4 linked regions of the Homo sapiens genome follow. The protein of the gene in region 2 purifies or fractionates together with the protein of the main gene of each other region. This does not show direct contact. Each region holds a gene or a part of one and is shown on either strand. Other genes may lie near its edges.

What was found.
Region 1: the proteins of MYH2 (region 2) and MFGE8 purify together in Homo sapiens (co-immunoprecipitation; one large-scale study listed by IntAct). This does not show direct contact.
Region 3: the proteins of MYH2 (region 2) and TPM1 fractionate together in Homo sapiens (co-fractionation; one large-scale study listed by BioGRID). This does not show direct contact.
Region 4: the proteins of MYH2 (region 2) and TMEM200A purify together in Homo sapiens (co-immunoprecipitation; one large-scale study listed by IntAct). This does not show direct contact.

The regions. Positions count from the first base shown.
Region 1 is NC_000015.10:88,910,496-88,914,884, forward strand, and holds the start of MFGE8 (lactadherin isoform a preproprotein), read right to left. Parts: upstream 2,885-4,389; 5' UTR 2,825-2,884; coding exon 2,752-2,824; intron 2,674-2,751; exon of another isoform or gene 1,953-2,673; coding exon of another isoform or gene 1,933-1,952; intron 1,682-1,932; coding exon of another isoform or gene 1,629-1,681; intron 1-1,628.
Region 2 is NC_000017.11:10,532,620-10,536,210, forward strand, and holds part of MYH2 (myosin-2), read right to left. Parts: intron 2,747-3,591; coding exon 2,659-2,746; intron 2,572-2,658; coding exon 2,454-2,571; intron 1,014-2,453; coding exon 890-1,013; intron 803-889; coding exon 666-802; intron 1-665. UniProt on the Homo sapiens protein: Myosins are actin-based motor molecules with ATPase activity essential for muscle contraction.
Region 3 is NC_000015.10:63,063,206-63,066,762, reverse strand, and holds the end of TPM1 (tropomyosin alpha-1 chain), read right to left. Parts: exon of another isoform or gene 2,700-3,557; coding exon 2,621-2,699; coding exon of another isoform or gene 2,617-2,620; exon of another isoform or gene 868-2,616; coding exon 864-867; coding exon of another isoform or gene 776-863; 3' UTR 585-775; downstream 1-584. UniProt on the Homo sapiens protein: Binds to actin filaments in muscle and non-muscle cells. Plays a central role, in association with the troponin complex, in the calcium dependent regulation of vertebrate striated muscle contraction.
Region 4 is NC_000006.12:130,441,285-130,443,651, reverse strand, and holds the end of TMEM200A (transmembrane protein 200A), read right to left. Parts: coding exon 1,754-2,367; 3' UTR 585-1,753; downstream 1-584.

The DNA of each region.
Region 1 (4,389 bases), on a different chromosome or scaffold from region 2:
GAGAAATCAGATGCAGCGCAGGCCTCAAGAAGCCAAGGGGAAAGAGGCCAGCAAGTCCACAGATGAGGAAGATTGCCCAACGCTCCAGAAGCCTGCATGGACCGTCACTGGAGGCATGATTTCTGCTGGGGAATTAGAAGTTCCCCAGAGGAGGGAATATTTGAGCTGGGTCTAGAAGACAAAGTAAGGGGGGTGCCAGACTGGGCAATGAGTAAAGAATGTTCCAAGAAAAGCAGATGCACAGAGGGTGTGGTATGTTGGAGCACAGTTAGATGCAGCTGGAAGGGTAGGCTGGGGCCAGACTGGGAGGGATCTGAAGAATGACAAGTTTAGTTTTTCATCCCGTAGAGCAGTGGCTTTTAACCTTCCTTCACCCTCCTCACCATTGTCCACCAGGGGGGAGAAAAAATAAAAATAAAATAAAAAACAAGAAACAAGAAACAGAGATTCTCAAGTGTGAGATGGGAGTGGGAAAGTCAGTTCCAATTGCGGGATGAAGAAGGCTGAAAAGGCCCATGTGCAGACATGCCGCTGAGCTCTCCCAGGGTGGGGAGCATCTGGTAGCTGCAGACAGGTCCCTCTGGCTGAAATGCAGAAATCCCACTGAAGAGGGTGAAGGTGGAGAGCAGGAGAGCATGGTGAGAGAGGAAGTCAGGGCAGAGGAGTGAAAAGGAAGGGTGATTTCAGAACCACCAGGGGGCAAGGGCTGGAGAGGCCACCAGGGCTTCTGGATGGGAACCTGGATGACAGATGTACACTATCAGCCCCGGTGGTGGAGAACACAGGAGAAGGAACAGGAGGGCCTGTCCTCAATCCCTTGACTCTGGTGGGTCGGCCGGGCCCAACAGGAGTCCTCTAGCCGACATTAGCATCCCAGAAGGGCTGCCCCAGACCCTACACCCAAATCTGTCATTTGGAGCAAGACATGAGACATCTTTTTGCCTTGGCCGGGCATGGTGGCTCACACCTGTAATCCCAGCACTTTGGGAGGCCGAGGTGGGAGGATCATGAGGTCAGGAGATCCAGATCATCCTGGCTAACACGGTGAAACCCCGTCTCTACTAAAAATACAAAAAATTAGCCGGGCCGGGCGTGGTGGCAGGTGCCTGTAGTCCCAGCTACTTGGGAGGCTGAGGAAAGAGAATGGCATGAACCCAGCGGGCGAAGCTTGTAGTGAGCCAAGACCGCGCCACTGCACTCCAGCCTGGGCGACACAGCAAGATTCCATCTCAAAAAGAAAAAAGAAAAAAAAAAAAACCTTTTTGCCTCCCCCTCAGAGTCACCCATCTAAGGCTGGAGAGTCCTCCTGAAATCTCAAAGCCCCTTCATCCCACTCCAGGGAAGGCAACAACACCATTAATGAGCGATCTGCCCTCAGAGCTCCCCCTCCAGGGGCCTCAGGAGCTTAAAGTGGCTCCCAAGGAGCTATTAGTCATTGGCTTTAAATAGCAGGTAATCCTTCCTCTGACCTGGCAGGCGGGGGCGAGCATTGACACAGACAGAGGCTTGGGTTGGGAATGGACTCTTCCCTCCCAACTGCACCGGCCCTCTCCCTACACTGCTCCAGGGCAAAACGGTCCAGTGGGAAAAAGGGAAAGGGAAAGGTGTACTCTACCCAGCCACGTTACCTGTGTGTAAGATAGGTATGGTGTTTCCTCCTTCTGGAAAAGGCCACATCACCCTGTATAAAAACATCTTTGGGACTTCAGAGTCCTGCTCTTTCGGGGACTTTCCAGTAACATTTGGCCAGAGTTCAGGTTGGGGGGTACAGGGAAGAGTAGAAAGGGGCTAAGAAGATCCAGCTGTCTTTCATGGTGGCCGGGGAGGGCCAGGAGCTCCCAAGTTCCTGGGAGCTTGGAGCACTCTGGAAGCTCTAGCCCCGAGGGTCAGGCAGATCACAGGACATAGGGCTGGGGCTCAGCTGTTACCTACCTTGCTTCAGTCAATCCCATTTCTATGAGAAAATGATGGAGGGGCCACCTAAAGAGTCCTGGCCCTGACTCCCTCCCAGCGCTCCACGGTGAATGGCACGGGGCATCCGCAAGTCCAGCCTGCAAGGGGCCCAGCTGGCCTCCGGAGGCCTCCTGGGAGGCGGAGGAGGACCGGGGAAGATACAGCAGCCGGCCAAGGCCGCGGGAGGGAGGGAGTCAGGAGACTCCCATCAGCAGGCAGCCCTCTTCCAAGCTCCTCGAAGCCTCTGGGTCCCCTCCCGGGCCCCACTTACGGCCTGCGTCCATTGCACCGACTCCCCGGCCCTTCCCTTATGTGACCAGGCACGGACAATTGGGAGCGCAAAAATCCAATGAACTGTCCAGCCAACTGGAGTTGGCAGGGAGATGGCCAGGACAAAGTTATCCAGACAAGACTTATCCATACTAGAGTCCTAGAATCTCCCAGGTGGAAGGGGTTCGAAAGTCAAACGCAGTTCCCTGGCCTCATTTTTCACCAGGGAAAAGAGAGGCCCGACACAGCGGATTCCTTTGTCATTATCTGTAAGCCGCATCCCTGGGGGCGGCAGGGCTGTCACCCGATGTCCCGAGTCCCAGCCCAAAAGCCCCAGCGCAGAGACAGCAGGGCCGCATCCCCCTGTCCCGCCAGGGCGCAGCGGAAGAAGCCGCCCCTCTGCCCAGCCCGGTCCCCGGGGCTTTGTCTAAGTTTGTCAACAGTGGAGGTGGAGGGCGGGCGCCGGGCAAACTTCCGAGCGGCGCGGGGAGGAGGGGCGAGGGGCAGAGGGCGGCGCGATCCACTCACCCAGGGCGACGAGGAGGCTGGGGGCGCAGAGCAGCGCGCCGCACAGCGCGGCCAGCAGGCGGGGGCGCGGCATGCTGCGGGGACGCGGGCGCTGGAATGGGCACGCTGGGCTGCTCAGACCCCGCGGGGTTCTGGCGCCTTCTCCTCTGGGACCGGAATAAATCAGGCGGCTCAGCACCTCCCACTGGCCGTGCGCTCCGCCCAAGCTGGCCAGAGGCGGACTGGGGGCGGGGCTCCGCGGCTGGGAGGGAATTGGTTGAAAGGAATTGGGGGGCGCGGGGGTGGTCCGCGATATCTGCCTCTTCCGCCACTGCCACACCGGCGTCCCGCGTCGTGCCAACGGCCGGGTCACGAGTCTTGAGTCTGTTGGGCGGGAAAAGTTCAGGAGTTTTGTTTTTAAGATTTTTAGACTTGAAAAGATGCTAACTCTTTATTCATAATCAGATAGATGCAAATTAAAACTACAATGAGCATCGTGTTTCCCTTCTCGGATCGGCAAGTATCAAGATGTTAACAAGGTTAGTGGAGGCTGTGGGGAACAGGTCCAAGCATGCTTCGCTGAAGACAGTATAAATTAGTTCAACTTCCCTAGAGGGCTATTTGGTAACACCTATCAAAACGACAAATGCTGACACCTTAAGACCTAGCATTTCCACATAGAGAGATTCATTCTACAGAAACTCCCATGTGCAAAATGACAGATATACAAAGATAGCATAGCAACATTGTCTGAAATGGTAAAATACTAAAAAAAAAAAATCAGCGAAGGTTTCTGTAAAGGGCCTAATAGAAAATGTTCTCTGATATGTAGGCCCTGAGTCTCTGTAGCAGCTATTCATCTCTGCCTTTGTTGCAAGAAAGGCACCATAGACAAAATGCGAGGAAATGGGCACCTGTTTGCCGAAAGGGAATAAAACAAAGCAAGCCTGTCACCGTTGACTTTTTACTAAATGATTTGTACTTATCATGTGCAAATATTACCTGTTTACAAATAAGTGATTTTAATAATAGTGTTTTGGCTGGGTGCGGTGGCTCACACCTGTAATCCCAGCACTTTGGGAGGCCGAGGCACGTGGAACACCTGAGGTCGGAGTTCAAGACCAGCCTGGCCAAGATGGTGAAACCCCGTCTCTACTAAAAATACAAAAATTAGCCGGGCGCAGTGGCAGGTGCCTGTAATCCCAGCTACTCGGGAGGCTGAGGCAGGAGAATCGCTTGAACCCAGGCGGCAGAGGTCCCAGTGAGCCGAGATCATGCCACTGCACTCCAGCCTGGGTGACACAGTGAGACTCTGTCTCTAATAATAATAATAATAATAATAATAATAATAATAATAATAATGCTTCAGGCTGGGAGTGGTGACTCAAGCCTGTAATGCCAGCTCTTGGGGAGGCCGAGGTAGGCATATCACTTAAGCTCAAGAGTTCGAGACCTTCCTGGGCAACATGGCAAAACCCTGTTTCTACAAAAAAAGAAATACAAAAATATTCCAGGCGCATGCCTGTAGTCCCAGCTACTCAGGAGGCTGAGGTGGGAAGATCGCTTGATCCCAAGAGGTCGAGGCTGCAGTGAGCCACGATTGCACCACTGCACTCCAGCCTGGGCAACAGAGCGAGACTGTCTCAAAAAATAATAACA
Region 2 (3,591 bases):
TTATATATCTGCATACACATATGTATATGTGTAGATGTATAGGTGGCAATGTAAAATGCCTTTCTCAACATGGAGAAATGGTCCTGATCACAGACATCCTGTACTTTGAGACACCTGGCTCTATAGTCTTTGAACTCTGTCCTTGCATCAAATTAGATCACCAAATAGCTACATTCCCTGATGCATTGTGTTAACTTACTGCAAAAAGTCTTTCACAGATAAATGGCCCCTAATATTTTAAATCATGAGAGTTTGATAATATAAATGATCAGAGGGAAAAAGTTGTCTCTACAGCCTGTGTAAAAGCACTCTTGAGTATACTGTCTGTTTTGCAGGTCAATGTCCCTTATCTAATGATCTGTCCAATAAATTCATATTAGAAACAGGTGCTAGGGCAAAAGTTTGCTTCTGCTTACTCACTGGTGTATTTTATCTTATTAGATAAGAAGTACACACTTCTTACCTAACTTCTCAAGTTTTTACCCATGCAATCAGATGGTGATGGTTCCTTCCTTAAGTTTTCTGGTACATGTGTATTCCCACTTCATTATAGGACTCTTATTCATTTCTTCTTTAGTGTCCTTATCATAAGCTGAGTCTTAACTGTAAGCCATTTCAAATATGTTTTTGAAGATGGAATATGTGAATAAACATATTTTTTATACCTTCTCTCCACCATCCTCTGGTACTCCACTCTTGCCAAGAACCCTCTGCACCTGGCCTGGGTTCGGGTAATCAGCTGGGCCAGCTTGTCATCTCGCATCTCCTCTAGGAGCCCCAGAAGACCAGCTTTGAAAAAGACCTGTGAATGGAAAGAGTTGCAAATCACAAGCTTTAATAAAGTTCAAAGGGACAGGAATAGCATCAGGTAGGATTTACAGAAAATTACCTTGGTGTGCCCAAATTTATACTGGGTGTGGTCAATGTCGATGGATGCAAGGAGCTTCTCAGAGGCCTTCTTGCTATCAATGAATTGCCCTTCAGGGATTGCACTTGCATTTAATACCTTGTATCTGTTGAAGTACATATAGCTTTTAACAACTAGTTTACTGATGACACAAATGCTAGCTAAACATTAAATGATTCATTTTTTAAAGCAGAGCTTTAAAAAAATATTATTCTTTGTTCACAAGGAGAACATTGTTTATTTGAATGGTCAACCCTTTGGCAACCAATTTTTATTCCATTTGCCTTTCCCTCGCAGTTGCAACTTTCCTTTCTGTCTCATCAGACCCTGTTCTTAGAAAAGGGTTCTGCCTTAAGAAAGGGACACATTATGGTGTGCCTAACCAATAAAATGTAATCTGTTATCTTTACTAGATGCATTTGCTTTTTAAGGCCCTGAATCCAAGAAAGCTACTTTTCATTGAAGAATTTGGTAGACAGTACACTTTAGGTATTCAGAACTATCCTAATCACCTAAAATCAAACTTAGACATGCTTTGGATCTTGAGCCCTGGAATCCTCTGTCAGTGCCACCTGACCCAGACCTGGGAGAGATCAGCTCCTAGCAGCTGCTACCCAGTCCTTCCCCACCTCTGCCTTTTCTTTGATTCTCAAGATGGGCTTATCTAGAGAGGAGAAAAGGGACCTGAGGAACAGTCATTGTGACATGTTCCCTCTGCCTCCAGGAAACCCTGGGAGTCTAATATGTGGGAGAAAAAGACGAACATAGATGATACCAAAGGAAATGACAGAAAATGAATAGCTATGTTTGTATGGAAGAGTTTCTAACTCAACCACTTAATAACTGTGACTTTGGGCAAGTACCTTAATTTCCCTGAGCCTCAGCTTATTCATCTATAAAGTGAAGTCTTAATAGTACCTACTTGCACTGTGTTTTTGCGAGGATTAAACAAGATAATCTGAACATATTAAGCACTCAAAAAGGTCGTTCTTAATTATTATTGGAGTTAACGTGTGCATCTATGAGCTAAGCTAAGTGCCTGATAAATCCAATGAAAATTCCACAAGGTGCTTAAAATTTTGTATATTTATATTTTAAAAGTATTTGAGGCTGGGCATGGTGGCTCATGCCTGTAATCCCAAAACTTTTGGAGGCCAAGGCTGGCGGATGACCTGAGGTCAGGAGTTTGAGACTAGCCTGGCCAGCATGGTGAAACCCCATCTGTACTAAAAATGCAAAAATTAGCTGGGCGTGGTGGCATATGCCTGTAGTCCCAGCTACTTGGGAGGCTGAGGCAGGAGAATCGCTTGAACCCAGGAGGCAGAGGTTGCAGTGAACTGAGATCACGCCATTGCACTCCAGCCTGGGTGACAGAGCAAGACTTTGTCTCAAAACAAAAGTGTTCGAGACTTGAGACTTGTAATTTTTTTACTTCTTTTTGTGACAAAACTAACAAGTAGAGGCATATGTTTCACTAAATTGTTTTGCTTGCATTAAACTTGTTCATATTAAACTTCAGAATACACCATAATCAGGAGAAACTGACCTCTGTTTGAAGTCTGCATAAAGGATTCTGCTTGGAAATCCTTTCCTACAGATGCGGATGCCTTCCAGCACACCGTTACACCTCAGCTGGTGGAGGACAAGCTCATGCTCCATGGCACCTAAAAATGCATATTTATTTCACTGCAGAGCTGTTGAAAAGGAGGTGTGGCAGTCATCCTTTGCACTTTCATTATGGAATTTCTTACCAGGAGTTTTTGTCTCATTGGGGATGATACACCTCACAAAGTGAGGATGGGTACTCCTGAGGTTGGTCATCAGCTTGTTCAAATTCTCCTGTAAAACCAGGAAAAATCCTGTCATTTTAGGCTCTAGACATGGATATGAGCAGTCATTGGTGTCTATAAAATCAATATCTATAGCTGAGTTGAATGACCAGTATGGACTGCATTCATATAAGGCAACACTTTGAATGCTTCTTCTGAGATGCTTTTTCCTCCTCAATAGATCTTTCTGCACTTGAGTTTCCGAGAGTTACACACAGAACAAGGAAAGCATCCTGGCATGTGCTTCTTTTCAGTTTATGCCAACACCATCCTTTCTACCCTGGTCCCTGGCCATACACATACATTTACAAGGCCATTGCCTTCCCATGCGAGATGATCGCTCTTTCTTCTACCAAATTCCATAGTTCTCCAATAAGGAAATGGAAGCCTGCACCACATTTGGACGTTTTCCTTATAATACAGCTCCTCTTTTCCAGCTCTATCAATTTTTAGGGGATAGAGATTATCTACAGGGGAGCAATCCTACCAATTATAATTGAAAATTGACTCGATTAAGAGCAAGGATACCATATTAGCTGCACTGCAGATTTGCTGCTAGAATTCATGAGTTCATTAGCCATACTGATGTCTTTTAGTCTCTCTGAGTTCATGTCATTGCTCTTTTTCATGGCTCAGCTAGATTATGAATGGCAGAGTATTATGGTCTATAAGATTTTCTATAAAATATTTCTCATTATTTGACTTAGCATGAAAAGTGAACTAATAATTTCTGAGTAATTTAAATCCCTTCTTTCCAAAGTTAGATCAACAGAGTCACTAGTTACTATCAGTCCTTTTCTAAACTACTCATGGAATGATCTTGTACTTTTAAAAGCAAATTTTATGCATTGGGTA
Region 3 (3,557 bases), on a different chromosome or scaffold from region 2:
TCATATTTAGAAAACCTAAGATGTCATTTTCATGATCAAAATAAAGGTGGCTGAGTCATGAATATACTTCAAAAAAGCTTGAACTTTTCTTTGTGCTATAAAAGGATGATCGACAATAACCAAAACTTACATTGTTTGAATCCAAGTTCTTTTTCACCCTTCTCAATGTATAACTTCCTAGTAATATGGGACAGCTACAGAACCATTCATCATGAGCCTTTCATTAGTTAGCCAGGTCCTCCCAAGTAAGGCCACCGAAATAATCAACACAGAGGGGTCACTACATCCCGAGCTAAACCTCCAGCAAAGGAAGACACTGATCAAGCCAGACCTTTCAACTCTCAACAAGCAATGTCCCCTGTGTGACCCAGACTGCAAAGCAGAGCCATCACAATTCCCCCAAAACCCCCCCAGATGTCCAGACCTCATTCTAACCTTTGAAAATCAGAACTCTGAGAGGGAATGCAGGCCTGGGTATTTTTTTGAAGTTCAACAAGGAACTACTGCTTTAGAAACTCCTGATATAATTCTGTATAGTGTTCAGTATTTAAAAAGAAAAAGCAGCAGCCAAACACTAACCCTCATATGTGTGAAGCAGCTTTGTAGTTTTATTCAATGTTGAAACTAAAATGTCAATAAATAAGAAGTAAAAAGAATAGCAAACAGAAATAGCTTACACAGTGTTTATTTGACACTGAAACGAAGAGCTTCTGTACAATAGAAAGCACAGTGTGTGCCTGGCTCTAAGGCAGGATGCTAAGAGAGAGAACCAGGGTCAGCTGGAGAATAGACAAATGCAGAGCTCAGAGAGGTGGGACATCCAGCTCGACGAGGGAGTCTTGGGAGAAGTGAAGCAAAGAAACTTATCTGCGTGAAGATAAAAAGGTGGGAGGAAAAAAAAAGTGGCACAATGAGAAAAAAAAAAAAAAGAAAGGAAACCAAACCAATAGATGAGAGCACTTGAAACACAGACAAGAAGCAGTCATGCAAACCCCACTGCCAGCCACACCCTTGGAAGGACATCCATCTTCCCACCTGAGGCCGTCACAGGCCGCCTTTCGGCAAGGGTCCATTTTAAGAAGACCCATGAACAGAATTTAAAAACAAAAAAAATTTTAAGCTACACTCGTCTTTCAGAATATTTAATCATACTTGATGCAAAAAGTTTTTCCCAAAGAATCACCACATTTTAGCACTGAAAAAGACCTTAGAGACAGATGATCTGCTCCACCCCCTCATTTACAAATGAGGGATGAGAAGACACATTTTCTCTGGTTTCCATGGCAACAGTCATGTCTCTAGAGGCTTTTTTGTTGACTGTGGGGATTCTATAACCTCTAAGGCAGCAGGCACATGCCACTCTCTTCAAGTTACCATTTTTTCTGCATGGGTAAATGAATGACAGGTGGGCTTGGAAAATGACATTTCCAGCTTCAATGGAATTCAGGGTGATATTAGAATGAAGAACTCTGAAACATTCCAGGTTAGAATTTAAAGTAGTAGAAAAAGTTTAATGTTTAAGTTTGGTTAGTAATATGTAAATTAGTTGTATCTGTTCAAGGTTCTTCTCATGATAACAAGACTACCTACTCCAACTCTTACTGCCTAACAGTAAAATCTGGGCCATTAACTCCCAAGCTCACATTGTACAATCTGTGTTTAATTTCCCATTTATTTGACACAGGTTGTGGTAAATATTTATCGTGGGTATTTTAATTCCTTTCATAAAAACACAAAATTAAAGGCTTGGTTACTCAGCAGAGGGTTCTTTTTACTCTACCATTCTTTTTTTTCTTGAGACAGAGTCTCGCTCTGTCGTCCAGGCTGGAGTGCGGTGGTGCGATCTCGGCTGACTGCAAGCTCCACCTCCCGGGTTCATGCCATTCTCCTGCCTCAGCCTCCTGAGTAGCTGGGACTACAGGCATCCACCACCACGCCCGGCTAATTTTTTTTGTATTTTTAGTAGAGACAGGGTTTCACCGTGTTAGCCAGGATGGTCTCAATCTCCTGACCTCGTGATCCGCCCGCCTCGGCCTCCCAAAGTGCTGGGATTACAGGCGTGAGCCACTGTGCCCGGCCTACTCTAGAATTCTTAAAAGTAAAAGAGATGATCTTTTGTAGTACCACTGTTAAAGCTGTATTGGATCATGCCAATTTCCTTATCCTCAGATTCTCAATAACCTGACACTTTAAGGGTTCCTTCAAATTATATTTAACGAAAATGATTATGTTGTACTTAGTTGAATTTCAGGAAACAAATTTTGATATTTTTTGAGAAGTTCCTGTACAACAAACGGCATGGCCTTCTAGTTTTACTTGAGTTTAGCTTAATTTCCCAAAAGGACAGTGCTCAAGGTCACTCATTCTAGTTCACTGCTCTAGTTCAGCGTTTACAAAATAAACGGATTCTGAAAAGAAAATGGTTTGTATAGACAGACTTAATCTAATTGGCCTTTATATTAGCAGAAAGTGAAAAAACAATGACTATTCTAGGTTATGACAAAAAGGGTGAACACAAGAGTGCAAAGATGGAGATTAGGGAGCAAGGAAGGCATGGTGGTGAGTTTATTACATTAGCATGAGGGCAGGGTGTAAGCAGGCAGAGTGGATGAACGTTTACATGGAAGTCATATCGTTGAGAGCGTGGTCCAGCTCCTCGCTGATGGCTTTGTACTTCAGTTTCTGAGCGTACAGCTCGTCTATGACCAGGAAGTGGAAGGCAGAGGTGCAAGAACATGGAGAGTGATCAAGAAATGGAGGGTGAGTGAGGGTGGTGCGCGCACCATCCCAACACAGCAGCAAGAAAAGGGCAATGCATGAAGGGGTTGGTGCCGCAGCAGGTGGCCAATGCAGGAGGCGTGCGTTTTGTTTTAAGTAAATTGAAACAAAAACAAAGAGAACAAAACCCATTAGAAAATAAAATGAAAAAGACTCAATATGAAAATCCTAACAAATATGGTAGGTATATCAGTAAACCATGTTAAATTGTAAACGAAACCACAGAAGGCTGTCTCCTGGTGAGGGGAGGCAGGGGCTAATGGAACATCTTTCTTTTGCAGAGCTATATTTTAATTACACTGGAGTAGTCAGGCATCTGCAGCTATAAACAATGGGAAAAAAATGCAAGGGCAGTGTTTTGGAAGAACAATTTGTGACTACAGCCTGTAGTCCTTATCTGGTTCCACCTTCAAACCACTGACTTCCTGACCACACTAGACCACTGGGATAGCGATTTCTTAGTGCCATTTAAGCTACTCCTGTGGTCTTCCCACTCAAGCTGCCTATTACTGGTCCAGGAGGCTTGAAAAGCAATGGGCGCCACACTTTATATGGCAAGTCTGCAACTTAGTTTTTGTAATGCTGCAGGTTTCATACTTTGCTGCACTTTGGCAGATCATTTTGCAACCATTTGTCATTCTCTCTTCTCCACTATTTTGGTTATTATCTGCACCAAACACTAGTTCCTTCTCTAATCCCTTCTGTGATGTAGATATTTGTCTTTTTTCTTTCTTGTTCACAGCTAATCCTTCACAAGCTTCAAAGCTCAACATTTAGGA
Region 4 (2,367 bases), on a different chromosome or scaffold from region 2:
GTGCCGCTGACTTTTGCTGTATTTGGTTATTTTCCTGAGAGTCAATGAAACTTTAAGTGAAAACGATCCCAAGATAAGAAAATTTAAAAACAGTCTAATTAAATAGGTGGATAGACCTAGCTCTTTAACCGAATAGAAGCAAAATTTAAAAGCCGAGATACTCAGTACATGTACTAGGGTATCAAGTGCCCTCAGTAGAATATATCTGAAAGTGTGAAAAACAGTACTTTAAGCAGAAATGTACATTTTATTTAAAAAGCAATAGCAAAGGTGTGAAGAACACAAACTTCTATTAATAACAGTTTATTAAATGCTTTATAGTAAAATATTGAGCCCACTCTATTACAATACACAGACTTAATGTTCTAACAAAGAAAACTGCCTCAATTGAGGGAAGTTTGTGATGCAAATGCAAGGTGGAATTTTGGGGAGCAACACAAACAAATGTATCCTCCTTCTGCTCTTCCACAACTGCAATACTGATGTTCAGAAATGTTTAGGTATTGGGAGAAACCTTTAGAATTTCCTGAGTATTTTATTAAACAATTCTTACAATTATGTTACCTTAAAGGAAAACATGAAAATTTTCTGATGAAAACATCCATTTTAATATTTATTATCTTCAGTGACTAAGAAACACAATCCTAAACAACATGTATTATACCGTAAGAAAGTCTTTGGAGTTATCATAAGGCTCTCCAGCACAAGGTAAACTTCAAGGCAATTTATCAAGAACTAAATTTTTTTGAACTACCGAGATAGTGGCATATGAAGGTAAAAAGAAATGTCAAGGTTAGCCGATTGTTTTCCAAATACTAGGATCTAAAGAATACCGGGGGAAAATAGAATGTGGGAATGAGGTGCTATTGGACAGTAACAGATGGCTAAAAACAGGTACTGAGACTAGTTAGCATTAACTAGTATATAATGTATCTTAATTCATTAGTCAACATTGTCTTCATGTATATAATTATTTCAGGATAGCATTTCTACAAATTTTATTGGTTCATTTAGTTTATCAAGTCAGCTTGCAAATAAATTTTGATTCCGAGTATCTAACGTTATAGCAACTATAATTGCATTTTGATGTTTATCCCTAAGTATATCTGGCACTGTCAGCCATGGCTCTTGAATACGTTGTTTCTTGATATAATATCACTAAAAACAGAAGTGATATTGAAAAAAATAACTACTTATCTAAAACTCAAGATTCACAATGAACTTAACCAATTAACATTACTGAGCTCACACTAAAACTAGATCTTTTTCATTTTAAATAATGTAACCAAATCCTACAAAGAACAATTATTCAGAAAATCACATCCTAAGGTTTGCACTCATAGTCATCTATAATACGTATTGAGTATTGGGACTGAATTTGTACTCCTGGTCCACACTTTGGTACCCTATGTTTTCCATACTGGACATTTCATTTTATGAATAGGGCAATCAAAGAACTTAAAAGTAAAGAAAATAAGCTTTAATTTGGATGCAAGCATTTTGCATTCATATTAATAAAAGAGATCATGCTTTCAAAGGAAGAGAAAAATAAAATCATGTGTGGTAACATAGAGTACTGCAGTCACAAGTAACCCAAACATACAACCATCTTCATTACAGAACTAAGCAGCCAATTCTAATACACTACAAACCATTTGATTAAAAAGGCTTACAGCCAATACTTTAAGAAGGAAACACCAGTGAAAATCGTTTTAAAATATATACCCTTGTAAAATGATATATTCTTTTAACATTAAAACCTTGTTTCAGAAGTTCCCCTCTTTAGGTTGTTACTCAAAAACTCATCATGTTCAAAACTCAAATTATTGTGAGATCTTGAAATCATAAGAAGCTTCTCCTTATTGGTAAAGTCCTTTTTGATGGCAACTTGGGGCACAAGCAACCTATCCATCGGGTCTTCTTTGTTCTCTAGTTTCATATATCCCTTGCTGTTGTTCCGATCCAACCTAGGCCAACTTGGATGTTTCCGTTGTTCTGCCTGAACAGTTAGAGTGGAGGGACCCCGGTCTAAGTCCAAGGACTTTGAGTGTGACGAGAGCAAATGCAAGGATGTATTGGACCCAAACTGTCTTCTGGCAGCCCCAGGAGACAAGAGCTGTCCAGCCCCAGGTCCGAGAGCCATAGATGACTTGTACTGACTCGACAACGACTCCCCAATGGAATTATTCCTTGGTAGCACTGTGCTGACGGGCTGGAAGGATTCACTGGTGTTGGGCAAAGGAACCACAAGGGAATCCATTGACAAATTCCTTGACCTACTTTTGAGGTTGTCAGCATCTTCAGTGATGTTATCTATACTGGGCTCATCAATAACACAGTTATTAAGTTTGATCACAGGCAATGTAA